Linked DNA regions of Homo sapiens: region 1 is linked to region 2. Evidence: fine-mapped QTL for protein levels in blood plasma. A gene starts in region 2. The other region holds a variant in brackets. All regions are shown on one strand. Distances are between the middles of the regions. Region 1 has its middle 35 kb from the start of EGR1. Region 2 holds the start of GFRA3 (GDNF family receptor alpha 3).

Evidence for each region. A credible set is the group of variants that fine-mapping cannot tell apart. PIP is the posterior inclusion probability: the model's chance that the variant is causal. The UK Biobank Pharma Proteomics Project read protein levels with antibody pairs (Olink). The fine-mapping took linkage between variants from a reference panel, not from the people measured, so its PIPs are less certain.
Region 1: its variant is the best candidate, but not a certain one, in a credible set for the plasma level of the GFRA3 protein (UK Biobank, PIP 0.57).

The regions. Positions count from the first base shown.
Region 1 is chr5:138,496,358-138,504,690 of GRCh38, reverse strand. No RefSeq gene overlaps it. Among named protein-coding and RNA genes, the nearest start is that of EGR1, 35 kb to the right of the region's middle. The variant G/C (reference allele first, on the strand shown) is at 4,356.
Region 2 is chr5:138,269,817-138,278,092 of GRCh38, reverse strand. It overlaps GFRA3 (GDNF family receptor alpha 3), which reads left to right and starts at 3,472. Exons shown (of 8, transcript NM_001496.4): 1 at 3,472-3,759. The coding sequence starts at 3,669. RefSeq lists silencers at 3,380-3,469, 3,560-3,749.

The DNA of each region.
Region 1 (8,333 bases), 230 kb before region 2:
CTGGTGAATTCTGTTTCAGATACAGCCATCTCCAGGAGTCCTTCCCTGAAACTGGCAGGCTTACCTGGGGCTTAGCTAAGAGCCCAGAACCAAACAAGGGAGTCAAGAAAAGCTCTGGTTCTGCTGGGCACCATGGCTCACGCCTGTAAACCCAACACTTCAGGAGGCCAAGGCAGGTGGATCACCCGAGGTCAGGAGTTCAAGACCAGCCTGACCAACATGGTGAAACCCCGTCTCTACTGAAATTACAAAAACTAGCCGAACAGGTGGTGGGCGCCTGTAATCCCAGCTACTCAGGAGGCTGAGGCACAAGAATTGCTTGAACCTGGGAGGCAGAGGTTGCAGTGAGACGAGATGGCACCACTGCACTCCAGCCTGGGCGACAGAGAGACTGTCTCGAAAAAAAGAAAAAAAGGCTCTGGCTCTGCAGTTAACTGGGTTTGTGACTTCACAGTATCAGGCAGTCCCTGAATCTGAAGTGCCGTGCCAGCCAGCTTCCCAGGAAGCTATCAGGAGAGTGCAGTAGGAAGCAGGATCTCTGAGGTCTGAGGTAGAAATCCTGGCGCCACCTGAGAGGCTGGCAAATTATTCCATGTCTTTGAGTAGCAGTTTCACCACCTGTAATAAGGATTAAATGGAGTAAGGCACATGAAGGCACTTAGCAAGGACTGGGATGGCAGCTACTCATGGTTCTTCCTCTCCCAACCTTGGTCCTCTGGAAGTGGCCAGGGAAAGTTTGTGCTGGTGACCACAAGGTGGTGGTATAGAGTTAAGGATGCTGACTGGAAGAAATTTGCTTCATCTGAAGTAGGGGGGATTTCTGACAAGCATTAAGAGGTGCCTGGGACAACTTGCTTTGCCCTTAAATTTTAGGAAAGTGGAGAGGGCAGTTTAACAAAGGAGTAGGGATGAGTGAACGGAGAGGAGATCCCAGGAGTCTCAATCCAGCTCTGCCCAGTTTTCTTACTCCTTATTCTGGGCTTTGAGCTATCCGTCTGTGAAGTAACTATAGTCACTGACATTTGTTGAACAGTTATGTAATCCTTAGAAAAACGTAGTGAGGGAGATGCTGTTTATATCTTCCCATCCACGTTCTACTAAGTGGCAAAATCTGGGACTCAAAGTCAGGTCTGTTTGGTTCCAAAGCCAGTGCAAATGCAGGTCATCCCTACAGAGTGAAATAAAACAGCATGAAGAAGGGCTTCCTGGGGGGCCCTTGGCCCCAAGTAGGTGAGCAATCCTGGAAGTGATGAGAAGAAGGCAAAGCTGTACCTGGGAATGTCAAGCCCATTCTCAGAAAGGACTCTCAGAAAGAGTCTCATTCGACTCTAGTCCTTAGTCTACAGCCATACCTTTATATAGCTTTTCTCCACAATACCCAATACTTAGACTTCTTAAGGAATTATAATTTTAGCACCTAATTTTTTTTTTTTTTTTTGAGACAGGGTCTTACTCTGTCACCCAAGCTGGAATGCAGTGGTGCAGTCTTGGCTCACTACAGCCTCAACCTCCCAGGATCAAGCGATCCTCCCACCTCAGCCTCCCGAGTAGCTGGGACTGCAGGCACACACCACCACACCTGGCTAATTTTTGGTTTTTTGTTGTTTTTGTAGAGATGAGGTTTCGCCATGTTGCCCAGCCTGGGTGTTTTTTTTTTTTTGAGATGGAGTCTTGCTCTGTCACCCAGACTGGAGTGCAGGGGTGCGATCTCGGCTCACTGCAAGCTCTGCCTCCCAGGTTCATGCCATTCTCCTGCCTCAGCCTCCTGAGTAGCTGGGACCACAGACGCCAGCCACCACGCCCGGCTAATTTTTTGTTTTTGTTTTTTTAGTAGAGGCAGGGTTTCGCCGTGTTAGCCAGGATGGTGTTGATCTCCCGACCTTGTGATCCGCCCGCCTCAGCCTCCCAAAGTGCTGGGATTACAAGCGTGAGCCACTGTGCCCAGCCTCCCCAGGCTGGTCTTGAATTCCTGAGCTCAAGTGATTGGCCCGCCTCTGTCTCCCAAAGTGTTGGAATTCCAGGTGTGTGCCACTGTGCCGGGCCCCTTAATTTTAGCACTAGAAAGGGTCTTGCACCTTACCTATTCCAATCCCCTCACTAAAGACAGAAGAAAGCTGAGGCCAGAGAGGAATATAGTGACCTGTCAGGCTCATGCAGCAAATTAGCAGAGCCAACATGAACACTTGCTCCAACTCCAGATTCGGTGCTCTTAACAGCCGGATGATCTTGTTATTCTTCATCCAGGCCCTGTTCTCTCTAATGTTATAAATGAGAGAAGGGACAATTGGAGGGAGCACGTGGCCTGAAACCAAAGAGCTAGGAGAGGAAAGGTGGCCAACATCCAGATGGAGTTATGAAAGCTGTTTGAAGTCACTTCCCTGTGAGTCAAGGTTGGCTTGGGTGTGTGGATCAACTTGCTTCTTCAGCCCCCGGCCTTCCAAATTAGCCCCATCTAGCTCTCCCTGACTGCCACAGACTTCCAGCTCCTCCCACTCTGCTGAGATACTATACCTAGGCTTAGCCCCTTCTGCTTGCCTGTCCATCCCCACTCAAAGCTAGAGGGCAAACCCATTTCCAAGGAAGCCAGGAGAATAAGGAAGGAGGGTGGAAACTTGAGAGAAAGGCTCCGAGCAGGAATGGCAAGGATCTTCTGAGAGGCAAAGATGCAGAGATATTCCGATTCCTGGGAGAAGGCATGAGGAGAAATCAGGGCTTGATGATGCCAGGACCCTCTGCCCCATGTTGTATTACTGTCCAGACCCAAAGACATGCCCAGCCTAGGCTCTCTGGTGGGGAAAGGCAACATGAGCCAGCTGGGGTGGGCCTGGAGGGCCTGCAGAGGGGGACTCTTTGTAATAAGGCAGGATGTTGCCTGGGAGAGAGTTGCTCCTCCAGATAAAGACGAATTTCTGTGCTCAGGGCTAGAGGCCCTCCCTTGCACCCCTGTCGGGCTCTGATTCTGAAAGGTAACATGGAAGGAGTTCTACCCCAGTCTCCTCCAGCCTTCTCCACAGACGCACTCCACGGCCACCTCTATTCCTTAAATGAGACTTGGGTTAAGCCAGTCTCATTCCTTGACTCAGCAAGCATTTAGACATGTCCCGTGTACTAGGTCCCGTGCAAGATTCAGTGGCAAACAGTGCAGGTGCACACCCTGCCCTTCGGTGTTGAAGGTCCAGCAGTGGAGACTCTGAACAAGGAATGACAATGAGTGTTAAAGGACAAGGGGAGTGCAGGGTGGCTCCTTCCTCCTCTGGGGGTGCTAGGTCTATGTGGGGACCTGGGTTAGCTGGAGAGATGAGAGGGTGAGTTTGGAGAGGCACGTGGATCAGTCCTGACTGGATCCAAAGGCCAGGAAGACATTCAGATTTCAGGACACTGTTTTTTCTTTTCTTTTCTTTTCTTTTCTTTTTTCTTTTTCTTTCTTTCTTTTTTTTTTTTTTTTTTTTTTTTTTTTTTTTTTTTTTTGAGACAGAGTCTCTCTGTGTTGCCAGGCTGGAGTGCAGTGGCGTGCCCTCGGCTCACTGCAACCTCCACCTCCTGGGTTCAAGTGATTCTCCTGCCTCAGCCTCCCGAGTATCTGGGACTACAGGCGTGCGCCATCACACCTGGCTAATTTTTGTATTTTTAGTAGAGACAGGGTTTCACCATGTTGGCCAGAATGGTCTCGATCTCCTGACCTCGTGATCCGCCCGCCTTGGACTCCTAAAGTGCTGAGATTACAGGTGTGAGCCACCGTGCCCGGCTAGGACACTGGTTTTTTCATCCTGCTGTCATTTCTGTGGTTTGTTTATTAACAGCTTTATTGAGGTATAATTTACAAACTATAAAATTAACCCACTGTAGGTATAGTTTGGCTATTTATTTTTAAAAGTAAATGTGTGTAGGCCAGGCCTACACGCCTGGCCTCTAATATCTTGATCCCGGAAGGTGGAGGCTGCAGTGAGCCAAGATCCCACCACTGCACTCCAGCCTGGGTGACAGTGAGACTCTGTCTCAAAAAAAAAAAAAAAAAAGTAAATTTGTATAGTTATGTAAACATCCCACAACTCACAACTTAATGTTCAGCATCCCAAAAAGATTATTTGTGCTCTTTTGCAGTCAATCTCTGTTCCCACATCCAACCCTGGGCAACTACTGATCAATCTACTTGCTTTGTTTTTTTTTTATTTTTTATTTTTGGAGACAGAGCCTTGCTCTGTCGCCCAGGCTGGAGTGCAGTGGCGCGATCTCAGCTCACTGAAACCTCCGCCTCCCGGGTTCAAGCAATTCTTATGCCTCAGCCTCCTGAGTAACTAGGACTATAGGTGCCTGCCACCACGCCCAGCTAATTTTGCTATTTTTAGTAGAGACGA[G/C]GTTTCACCATGTTGGCCAGGCTGGTCTCAAACTCCTGGCCTCATGTTATCTGCCCACCTTGGCCTCCCAAAGTGCTGGGATTATAGGCATTAGCCACCACGCCCAGCTGCTACTGATCTGCTTTCTACCTCTACAGTTCTGGCCTTCCTAGAAATTTTTATATTAATGGAAAAGCACAACATGTAGTCTTTTATGTGAAGCTTCTTTCATTTAGATAAATTTTTGAGATACATCTATCCTATCTTTCTTTCTTTTTTTTTTTTTTGAGATGGAGTCTCACTCTGTCACCTAGGCTGGAGTGCAGTGGCTCAATAACAGCTCACTGCAGCCTTGATCTCCTGAGCTCAAGTGATTCTCTCGCCTCAGCCTCCCAAGTAGCTGGGATTACACCACCATGTCAGGCTATTTTTTGTATATATATATATTTTTTATAGAGATGGGGTCTCCTTATGTTGCTCAGGGTGGTCTTGAACTCCTAGCTCTAAGTGATCCTCCCGCCTCAGCCTCCCAGTGCTAGGATTACAGGTGTGAGTCACCATGCCCAGCCTGTTGCATGTTCATTTTTATTGTTGAGTAGTATGATACAATAAGAAATACATATACAGGTCTTTGCTCCACTCCTTTCCTGGCATGCAGCTCCTAAAACCCATGGAATCTCCAGAGTGATGAGAGTGTCTTTTCTATGCTAATATGATTACTGATGACTGGGGGCCCCTAGGTAGCTTCAGGATGGGGACTGGTCACCAGAACGACCAAAACGTGATTAGAGAGTAGAGCTTTTGGGCCAGGCGCGGTGCCTCATGCCTGTAATCCCAGCACTTTGGGAGGCCAAGGCGGGCAGATCATTTGAGGTTAGGAGTTCAAGACCAGCCTGACTAACATGGTGAAATCCTGTCTCTACTAAAAATACAAAAAAACATTAGCTGGGCCTGGTGGCATATGCCTGTAATCCCAGCTACTCAGGAGGCTGAGGCAGGAGAATCGCTTGAACCTGGGAGGCAGAAGCTGCAGTGAGCCAAGATCACTCCACTGCATTCCAGCCTGGGCAACAGAGCTAGACCTGTCTCCAAAAAAAAAAAAAAAAAAAAAAAAAAAAAAGTGCAGCTTTCAGCACCTGCCTCCCACCTCCAGAGAGCGGAAAGGGGCTGGAGGTTGACTTAATCACTGATGGCCAATGATTTTATCAATCATCCCTATATAATGAGACCTCCATAAAACCCCCTAAATGATGGGGTTCAGGAAGCTTCCAGGTTGGTGAACACATTGAAGTGCTGGGAGGGTAGCATGCCCAGAGAGGGGATGAAAGCTCTGCACCCATACCTTGCCCTATGCATCTGTTCTGTTGAGTTGTATCCTTTATAATAACCTACCATAATGTGTAGATTTTTCCTGAGTTCTGTGAGCTGTTCTAGCAAATTATCAAACTTGAAGAGGGGGTCATGGGAACCCCTTACAGCCAGTTAGTCAGAAGTACAGGTGGTAACTTGTGACTGGCATCTAATATTGGGGCAGTCTTATGGAACTGAACCCTTAATCTGTGGGGTCTGTTAACTTAGGGTATTAGTGTCAGAATTGAGTTGAATTGTAGGACACCAAGTTGTGTCTGGAGAGTTGGAGAATAGGTTGATGTGGGAACAAAACTCCACACATTTGGTGTCAGAAGTGTTGTGGGTAAAACAGCACAAAAGTAGTATTCCATTGTATGAATATACCGCATTTTGTTTATCTCTTCCACTGGTGGATATTTGGACGGTGTCCAGTTTTTAGCTGTTTGAATAATGCTGCTATGAACATTCACATACTAGTCTTTGTGTGAATATATGTTTTTTGTTTCTCGTGGGTTGATACTGTATATCTTTGGAGAAATGTCTATTCAACTCCTTCGCCCATCTTGAATTGGTTTATCTTGTTGAGTTATAACAGTTCTTTATACTCTAGATACCAAACCCTTATTAGATATATTATTTGCAAGTATTTTCACTTTCTTGATAATGTCTTCTGATGCACAAAACTAATTTTGGTGAAGTTCAATTTATCTGTTTTTCTGTTGTTGCCATATCTGTTGTTTGCCAAATCCAAGGTCATGATTTACCCATGTTTTCTTCTCTTAGAGTTTTAGCCCAGGCACAGTGGCTTCTGCCTATAATCCCAGCACATTGATAGGCCAAGGCAGGAAGATGGTTTGAAGCCAGGAGTTCAAGGCCAGCCTGGGCAACATAGCAAGACCTCAACTCTACAAAAAATTTAAAAATTAGCTGGGTGTGGTGGTGCACACCTGTAGTCATAGCTGCTTGGGAGGCTGAAGCAGGAGGATTGTTTGAGCCCATGAGTTTGAGGTTGCAATAAGCTATGACTGTGCCATCTCACTCCAGCATGGATGACAGAGCAAGACCCTATCTATTATGTGTCACTGGCCCATTTTGAGTTAGTTTTTGCATATGGTATGAGGTCAGGGGTCTGACATCATACTTTTGCATGTGAGTATCTAGTTGTTGTGGGGTTGGGCATTGTGGCTCACACCTGTAATCCCAACACATTGAGAGCCCAAGGCAAAAGGATCACTTGAGCCCAGGAGTTCAAGACCAGCCTGGACAACATAGGGAGACCCCATCTCTACAAAAAAGTTAGCTGGATGTGGTGGCACTCACCTGTGGTCCCAGCTACTGGGGAGGCTGTCGTGGGAAGATCACTTAAGCTTCGGAAGTCAAGGCTGCAGTGAGCCATGGTGCTGCCACTGCACTCCAGCCTGAGTGACAGAGCAAGACCCTGTCTCAAAAAAAAAAAAAAAAAAAAAAAAAAAAAAAAAAGTTGTGCAAGCACCATTTTGTTGATGAAACTATTATTTCCCCCATTTAATGCTCTTTGCTCCCTTGGAGAAAATCAGTTGACCATAGGTATATGGGATTATTTCTGAACTCTGAACTCTCTGAATTACTTCTGAACTCAGAAATAATCCCATATACCTATGGCCAACTGGGTATGGTATAATAATCCCATATACAACTGATATAGATATATAGGTTTGTATTTCTAACTTTATTATACCAGTACCACATTGTTTTGATTTATGTTACGTTGTAGTATGTTTATTTGTTTGATCTTTTTTTGAGACAGAGTCTCTTTCTGTTGCCCAGGCTGGCATACAGTGACAGGATCATGGCTCACTGCATACTCTACCTACTGGGCTCAAGCAAACCTCCCACCTCAGCCTCCTGAGTAGCCTGTACTATAGGTGTGTGCCACCATGCCCAGCTAATTTTTTTTTAATTTTTAATAGAGTTGGGGTCTCACTGTTGCCCAGACTGGTTTTGAACTCCTGGTCTCAAGTGATCCTCCTGCCTTGGCCCTGCAAAACACCAGGATTACAGGCATGAACCACCATGCCCCACCAACTTCTAATATTAAACATTAAAGTGAAGCTGGGTGCAGTGGCTTGTGCCTGTAATCCCAGCACTTTGGGAGGCTGAGGCAGGCAGATTGCTTGAGGTCAGGAGTTCGAGACCAGCCTGGCCAACATGGCGAAGCCCCTTCTCTACAAAAATACAAAAATTAGCCAGGCGTGGTGGCACACAGCTATAATCCCAGAAGCTGAGGCAGGAGAATCTCTTGAACCTGGAGGTGGAAGTTGCAGTGAGCTGAGACCACACCTGCACTCCAGCCTGGGTGACAGAGCAAGACTGTCTCAAAATGAAATAAATGTGAGCTGGCCGGGTGCAGTGGCTCATGCCTGTAATCCAAGCACTTGGGGAGGCCGAGGCGGGCAGATCACAAGGTCAAGAGATCGAGACCATTCTGCCCAACATGGTGAAACCCCGTCTCTACTAAAAATACAAAAAATTAGCCAGGCGTGGTGGCAGGCACCTGTAGTCCCAGCTACTCCAGAGGCTGAGGCAGGAGAATGGCATGAACCCAGGAGGCGGAGCTTGCAGTGAGCCGAGATCGTGCCACTGCACTCCAGCCTGGGTGACAGAGCAAGA
Region 2 (8,276 bases):
GGGAGTTATGGGAGGAGGTGCCACACACTTTTAAATGACTGGATCTCTTGTGAACTCAGTGACAGCTCACTTATCCCCAAGAGAATGGCCCAAGCCATTCATGAAGGATCCACCCCCATGATCCAGACACCTCCACCAGGCCCCACCTCCAACATTAGGGATTACATTTCATCATGAGATTTGGGTGGGGACAAATATCCAAACTATATTAAGGAGGAATATTTCCCTTTCTTTATCAGGAGTATAAAGTAGGAGGCATGGGGGATTCTCTCCCTGTTCTGTTCAGGCATAGGTTAAGGAAACACCAATTCCTTTAAACATATGCATCTGGAGTTGCCAATTCTGAGTATCACAGTTGTTAAAATATGACACAGTCCCTGCCCTCAAGAAATTGACAAGGTAGAAAAATAAAAAATGGCTCTTTTTGTTTCCATCCCTACAAGCACTCTGGTCTAGTAGTATATTCAGCAAAAGGAGCAAAAAGTGCCACTTCCAGCTCCAAATCAGCAGGTCGGGTGGTGGGGTCTGGCCAAGTTCACACACAGAATAATTAACTCCTGCATGCTACCTGGGATGATATTTATTCGATGCTTGCTATATGCCAGGTATAATGCTACACCTTTTTTTTTCTTTTCTTTTTTTTTTTTTGAGTCGGAGTCTCGCTCTACTGCCCAGGCTGGAGTGCAATAGCATGATCTTGGCTCACTGCAACCTCCGCCTCCTGGGTTCAAGCAATTCTTCTGCCCCACTGAGCCTCCCGAGTAGCTGGGAATACAGGCATGTGCCACCATGCCCGGCTAATCTTTGTAATTTTAGTAGAGATGGGGTTTCATCATATTGGCCAGGCTGGTCTTGAACTCCTGACCTCGTGATCCGCCCACCTTGGCCTCCCAAAGTGCTGGGATTACAGGCGTGAGCCACCGCGCCCAGCCTACACCTTCATTTAAATACTATACTCATTTAATCCTCACAATGTGAAATAGATACTATTATCCTTAATTTTACAGGTGAAGAAATGGAAGCACAGAAAAATTAAGTGACTTGCCCAAGGTCATCCAGCTAGTGTCGGCATTTGAATCTAGGCAGTCTGTAAAGCTTGTGGTCTTAACTATTTATTATACTGCTAACATCCTGGATTAGGATAGCAGCAGGAATTAAAGCTCAATGGAGAGAGAGAGGACTTGAGAGAAGGTAGAATCCATGTAATCTGACCATAAGAGGAGAAAATTGAGATTACAAGTGAAAGTGGAATAAGATACAGGGTCTTTGGGCATTTGAGTTGCAATCAGTGGATTGTAACACCCTCCCCGAGCAGGATTTGTGTCTTAATCATTTTGCACCTAGCATAAAGCTGGGCTCATAATCATTCTCAAAACACATTATTGAATTGAATGATGGATGAGTAACATCATCTCTGTAGAAAGGACTGGCTCATTTGTCATTGTCCACAAGGGGCAATGCTGCTTATCTAGCAGGTGTTGGCAGTCACAGAGGACATGGTTGGTGGAGAGGGTGTGCTGGAGGGCTGTCAATATTAGTCTTGGAGTCATATTTATTTGCAGAGCTTCTCCAATCCTCATTAAAGGCCCAATGATATGAGGCTCTCCACCCCTGTACCCAGACAGAAATATGCACCAGACACTTTATTTTCTCTCATGAAAAGGCTGGCCTGTTACAGGTGGGATTGGTCATTGCTCCCAGCCCGTCAGCTTGATACTGCATTCTTGGTCTATTCTGTGGGGACAGCCCTGGAATAGACACTGAGTATCTATCAGAGTAGGCACCCTGAGCAAACTTCCTTTCCCAAACCCTCTTCCTGCCCATAACATGATTTGGCTTGGGCTGGAGGAGGGGGAGGGCAGAGGAGACACCCCTTGACCACCTCACATCTTTGTTGGTTCATGGGTCTCAGCCCTTTCCTATCATCCCAAAGAGCCTGAAATTGTTACATTTTGCTTTATAAATTCCTTTCTTAAGTATTGTCAGTTTCAAAAAAAAAAACCCAAAAAACGATTGTCTGCCTGTAATAGCAGGTGTGAGAGAAAATGAGGTGCCTGGAGCATATTTCTCTCTGGCAATGGGGTAGAGGGCCTGACATCATGGGGCCTTTAATGGTAGCCCCCCAGCTTCATGTTCCCTCACCTTTCTGGAGAGGAGGGCTTGGGAAAGGCACATGGAGATAGGGTGGAGCTGGGGGAAAACAGGCCTTGTACAAAAGCTGAGTAGCCAGATGTTCACTTTTACAGCTCTTCTGTAAAACTGGCAGGGCAGATATAGATTAAAACGAAGGACAAACTCCATTTAAAGTGCATTACAGCTCAGGAACCAGCACCCCCTGGGCAGGAGAAGGGAGGGAAGGGCACAGAGGCCACATCAGTCTCCTTCCTTATCTAGGGCCACATGTCTCTCTCCTAGCTTTGCCAAGGGTGATTTACACCCCCAGCTGGAATGACTCTCTTTCTGGGCTGATTACATCGGCAAATGCCCCCCAGAGGCCACAGCAGGATGGCCATATTCAGAAGCAGCAGCCAATAAATCTCAGAGGTTTATATTGCGATTCTCAGTACTCCCTGCTGGCCCTCTGCCAGGCTGGCTGTGGAAGTAAGGAGGGGGTCAAGTTAGAGGGTTAGGGGATGAAACCCTCCACTTCCTTTCATCACCCTCTTCTCCTTCTCTCTTTCTATGCGCTGCTTAGTTCTCATTCTTCCAAGCCATTCTGCTTCTGGCTTTATCCTGGGATCTTGTGGGAATCAGGCCCAGGCCCAATAAATACCCTTATCCTTATGGGTAGACGTCCTGTGTTCTGGGCACAGATGTGTTTCTACCTAGTTGTTTAATCCTGATAGAGTAGCTTGCTCTCCGAAAGTCTCATCATGTGAAAAGGATGGGCTCCTAAATGGTCTCTCCAGGCACCTTCCTCAGTGAGCTTTGGTCCAAGGAAATCTCTGCTATTTAGTGGAGAGTTTAATCTTCCATCTTCCCTCACGACACCATCGGGGCTGAATTTTGGAATCTAATGCCCCAGGTCTGCTCCCCCAGCAAAGCCATTCCACCTGTCTGCGACCCATCTTTGCAGCATCTTGAGCTTAATAACCACCCAATCTTACCCTAGAAGACACTTAGGAGAGGAAAAAACGAGATCATAGATGTGCAAATTCTAAGAAAAATACTAGAAATGCAAGTGCCCTTGTGTTGGCTTGTTCAAGTTTTGTTACAAAATCTCTTTTGTGGTGGTGTCTGTTCTTTGATGTGTGGGTGAGTGGGATCCAGAAAGTGAGAAAGGGTGCTTTTCTTGGAGAAATATTTGGTTCTCCTAGATGGCGAGTTTCCAGCGGCAGCTTCCACAATGTCTTGCTAGTCGAACTTGTCAGACAGCAGGTGGGCCGCCTCGGAAAGAGCAACCTCTTCCGCACCAAGCCCGGCGGCTCCCGGGGCGCCGGCCCTCCCCCGCCCCCACCCCCGCGGTCCCTCGGACCAGCGCTGGAGGCGCGTGGTGTGGACGCGCGCTTCGGAGTTGGAGGGCGGCGCCCAGGACCCTGGTGGGAGAGTGTGTGCGTCGCGCTGGAGGGCGGGAGGCGGGGGCGGGAGGTGCCGGTCGAGGGAGCCCCGCTCTCAGAGCTCCAGGGGAGGAGCGAGGGGAGCGCGGAGCCCGGCGCCTACAGCTCGCCATGGTGCGCCCCCTGAACCCGCGACCGCTGCCGCCCGTAGTCCTGATGTTGCTGCTGCTGCTGCCGCCGTCGCCGCTGCCTCTCGCAGCCGGTGAGTGTCAGAGCGCGCACCGGCCGGGGGTACAGTGGGAGGGGGAGGTGAGGTGTAGGCGAGGCCCGGGGCACCTGTCCGGAGAGGGCGCAGCAGCCTCCCGGTGCATCCGAGCCGAACAAGGGGAACTGGAGCAGGAAGCCCAGGGTGCCTGCAAGGGGCTGGGGTCACACCTAACACAGTGTACGAACTGAGATAGACTGAGTGCCAGCAATGGCCTGGCCACCCAAGCATCTCCTCCTCGCCCCTTTTTCCCCCCTCTTCCCTCTTTTGAGGTAGGTCTACACAGTCACAGAACAACCCACAGCCAGGTCACTACCAAGACAGCGTCTCTAAGAGGCGGGGAGAATCAGATCAGAAACAGAGTGTCATTTGCTCCACGTGGGCTTTAACTCTTCCATCTGCTTTAAGGACTGAGGAAGAAACTAGGTACAGGTGAAGAAAAAGAAGTTCGTTAAAACTGACTTGTTTCATAACCTTCTACAATAGCAGGCCTTGCAAGCCGTCTAGCACAGTGGCTTGCCCCTTGGATAATAAATAATCCACAATAGATGTTTTGTAGATGTAGTTCAAGGCCTGGTTTTAGAACCAGGCCACTCCCCCAAGGAAGAACAGCCTGGGATCCGAGATCCCTGGAAGGCCCATGGCCTTCGTGAGTGGTATGGGTGTGTGGAATCTTATTATGCGGCTCCTGCCCAGAGACTGAATGGAGGGACTCCTGAGACAGAGAGACCACCACACTGCCCTGAGACCTCAGTCCACAACGCAGTGCTGTAGAAATGCTGCCTTGAGACAGATATGGAAGGAAGGAGGAAAAACCCTGGTCTGTCCACCTGCCAACATCAGTAAGTCAGGGCAGCAAGACATCACCAGTCTGATTTGACTGCCCAGGAAATTTCACTAATCCTAAAGGTTATGGCTGCATGTCAGGATCAGGGGAAAACATTAAACACCTTTCTCATTAAATGGTTTAATGAAGCAGTGTTGGTGACAGATCTATTTTCCACAGTAATACTTGACAGCAATGACATCTGGTTAAGTAGCCTCATTGAAAATCCATAAAACAGTCATCTAGGAGGTACCATGTAGAGCCAAGTGCTCTTCAAGAGCACAGACCAACAGAGGGCTTTGGGGGTGGAAAATATCATTGCTCAGGGCCTGCTAAAGCCAAGCATATAGGAGACCTCCGATTCATGGGGAAGTGGTGTCATGTACTGAAAATCATTCTGAAGTGGATAGGAGGCTGGAGTCCTGGGTTCTAGCCTTGACTCGGTCTTGACTTGCTACATCCCCTGGTGCACATTACTTTTCTTTGTTCATCCAACTATAAAATGGATACCTGGGTTGTGGGCCTCACTGATGAGAAACAAATGAGGATCTTGTGCCCTGAGGCATAGCCTGATCTGACCCATTCTGTAGCTACTCATTCTCTGATGAGCCAAGAAGCAGAAAACAAAGTTACAAAACCAGGTTGCTAACAAATCAATATGAAATAGACGTGGCAGTGGCTGTATAAATGAGGAGGTGGGGCAAGTAATAGAAAGTGGTATGGACTATAACAAGCTGGAAAAGGCATGACTTGTCAAAAGGGGGCAGTCATTACTCCACCCGTTACATGTGGGCCCGAGTGTTTCCATTTTTCAAGACAAATTGGAAATTAATAGTTTTATTTGAAATCTGATTTTTTTTTTGAGACAGGGTATCAATCTGTCACCCAGGCTGGAGTTCAGTGGTGTGATTCCAGTTCACTGCAGCCTCAACCTCCCATACTCAAGTAATCCTTCTGCCTCAGCCTCCCCAGTAGCTGGGACTGTAGTAGTGTGCCACCACACCTGGTTAATTTTTGTATTTTTTGTAGAGACGGGTTTTTGCCATCTCGGATGCCCAGGCTGATCTTGAATCCTGGGCTCAAACAGTCTGCCCACCTTGGCCTCCCAAAGTGCTGCAATTAAAGGTGTGCGCCACCGCACCCGGCCTAAAATCTGATTTTTAAATGTTGGCCACTAATTACAACTTTAAGAAAATACTGGCTGGGTGCAGTGGCTCACACCTGTAATCCCAGCACTTTGGGAGGCTGAGACGGGTAGATCACGAGGTCAGGAGATTGAGACCATCCTGGCTAACACAGTGAATCCCCGTCGCTACTAAAAAATAGAAAAAATTAGCCAGGCATGCTGGTGGGCGCCTGTAGTCCCAACTACCCGGGAGGCTGAGGCAGGAGAATGGCGTGAACCTGGGAGGTGGAGCTTGCAGTGAGCTGAGATCGCGCCACTGCACTCCAGCCTGGGTGACAGAGCGAGACTCCGTCTCAAAAAAAAAAAAAAGAAAAAGAAAATACTGTGAACGTGCAAAAAAAACCAACCAAACAAACAAATAAAACAACCAAACCACACACACACACACACACACACACACACACAAAAAAAAAAAAAAAAAAAAAACAGAAAAGAAAATACTGCCGGGAATGGTGGCTCACGCCTATAATCCCAGCATTTTGGGAGGCCAAGGTGGGTGGATTGCTTGAGCTCAAGAGTTCGAGACCAGCCCGGGCAACATGGTGAAAACCCATCTCTACAAAAAATACAAAATTAGCTGGGCGTGGTAGTGCATGCATGCAGTCCCAGCTACTTGGGAGGCTGAGGTGGGAGAATTCACCTGAGCCTGGGAGGTCGAGACTGTAGGCTGCAGTGAGTGGCGATTGTACCACTGCACTCCAGTCTGGGTGACAGAGATTAAAAGAAAGAAAAGAAAAGGAGAAAGGAGAAAGAAAAAGAAAGGAACGGAACTATGCTGACTAAAAAAGACACATTTGCACACTGGATCAAATTATGACCTTTGCCCTGGATCAAGTCCTGTGTTTCACAATCCAGGAAACACAGGTTCCACCTTGTTGAGATGAAATTTAACGTGGCCCCCAAGTTCTTTGTTGAGATGAATGCCCCTAAATCCATCACTGCTCAAACTTGGTAAAGTGTCAACTAAGAAATTGTTTTCTTTTGAAAATGTTTACAACTCAATAGTTAGTACAGTTAAATATTTATGGCCGGGCACAGTGGCTCATGCCTGTAATCCCAGCACTTTGTTGAGGCCGAGGCGGGCAGATCACCTGAGGTCGGGAGTTCAAGATCAGCCTGACCAACATCGAGAAATCGCATCTCTACTAAAAATACAAAATTAGCCAGGCATGGTGGGGCATACCTGTAATCCCAGCTAGTTGGGAGGCTGAGGCAGGAGAATCGCTTGAACCCGGGAGGCAGAGGTTGCAGTGAGCCGAGATCGCGCCACTGCACTCCAGCCTGGGTAACAAGAGCAAAACTCCACCTCAAAAAAAAAAAATTATTTTTAGTCCAGTTACAACAATAGAACTTGAATCTGCCACTTTTCTTTGTGTACTTACCACTTATTCAGTACCTACCGGAAGTAACATCGTAAACTTGTAGAAATTCCTCAATCTTTTTAAATCCATGTTCCCCTTTTGGTAAATATATAAAATCTCATACCTTCCTTAAATACTTTTTGAAATCTCAAAAGCTTTTTTTTTCATCTTGTACATGTAAAATTATCAAATATGCTTTTTGGAAATACATATTTCCTAGAGAAATTCTGATATACTTTTTCTTTTCCATAGGTTATTGGGGTACATACAGGTGGTGTTTGGTTACATAAGTAAGTTCTTTAGTGCTGATTTATGAGATTTTGGTGTACCCATCACCCAAGAAGTATATACTGCACCCTATTTGTAGTCTTTTATCCCTTCCCCTCCCCCACGCTTCCCCCCAAGTCCCCAAGTCCATTGTATCATTCTTATGCCTTTGTATCCTCATAGCTTAGCTCCCACATATCAGTGAGAATATACGATGTTTGGTTTTCCATTCCTGAGTTACTTCACTTAGAATAATAGTCTCCAATCTCATCTAGGTTGCTGCAAATGCTGTTAATTCATTCCTTTTTTTTTTTTTTTTGAGACGGAGTCTGGCTCTGTCGCCCGGGCTGGAGTGCAGTGGCGTGATCTCGGCTCACTGCAAGCTCCGCCTCCCGGGTTCGCGCCATTCTCCTGCCTCAGCCTCCGAGTAGCTGTACAGGTGCCTGCCAGCACACCTGGCTAACTTTTTTTTTTTTTTTTTTTTTGTATTTTTAGTGGAGACGGGGTTTCACTGTTTTAGCCAGGATGGTCTTGATCTCCTGACCTTGTGATCCGACTGTCTCAGCCTCTCAAAGTGCTGGGATTACCGGCGTGAGCCACCATGCCTGGCCAATTCATTCCTTTTTATGGCTGAGTAGTATTCTATTCTATCACAATTTCTGTTCCATTCGTTGATTGATGGGCATTTGGGTTGGTTCCATGATTCTGCAATTGCAAATTGTGCTGCTATAAACATGAGTGTGCAAGTATCTTTTTGGTATAATGACTTCTTTTCCTCTGGGTAGACACTCAGTAGTGGGACTGCTGGATCAAATGGTAGTTCTACTTTTTTTTTTTTTTTTTTTTGAGATGGAGTCTTGCTGTGTCACCACCA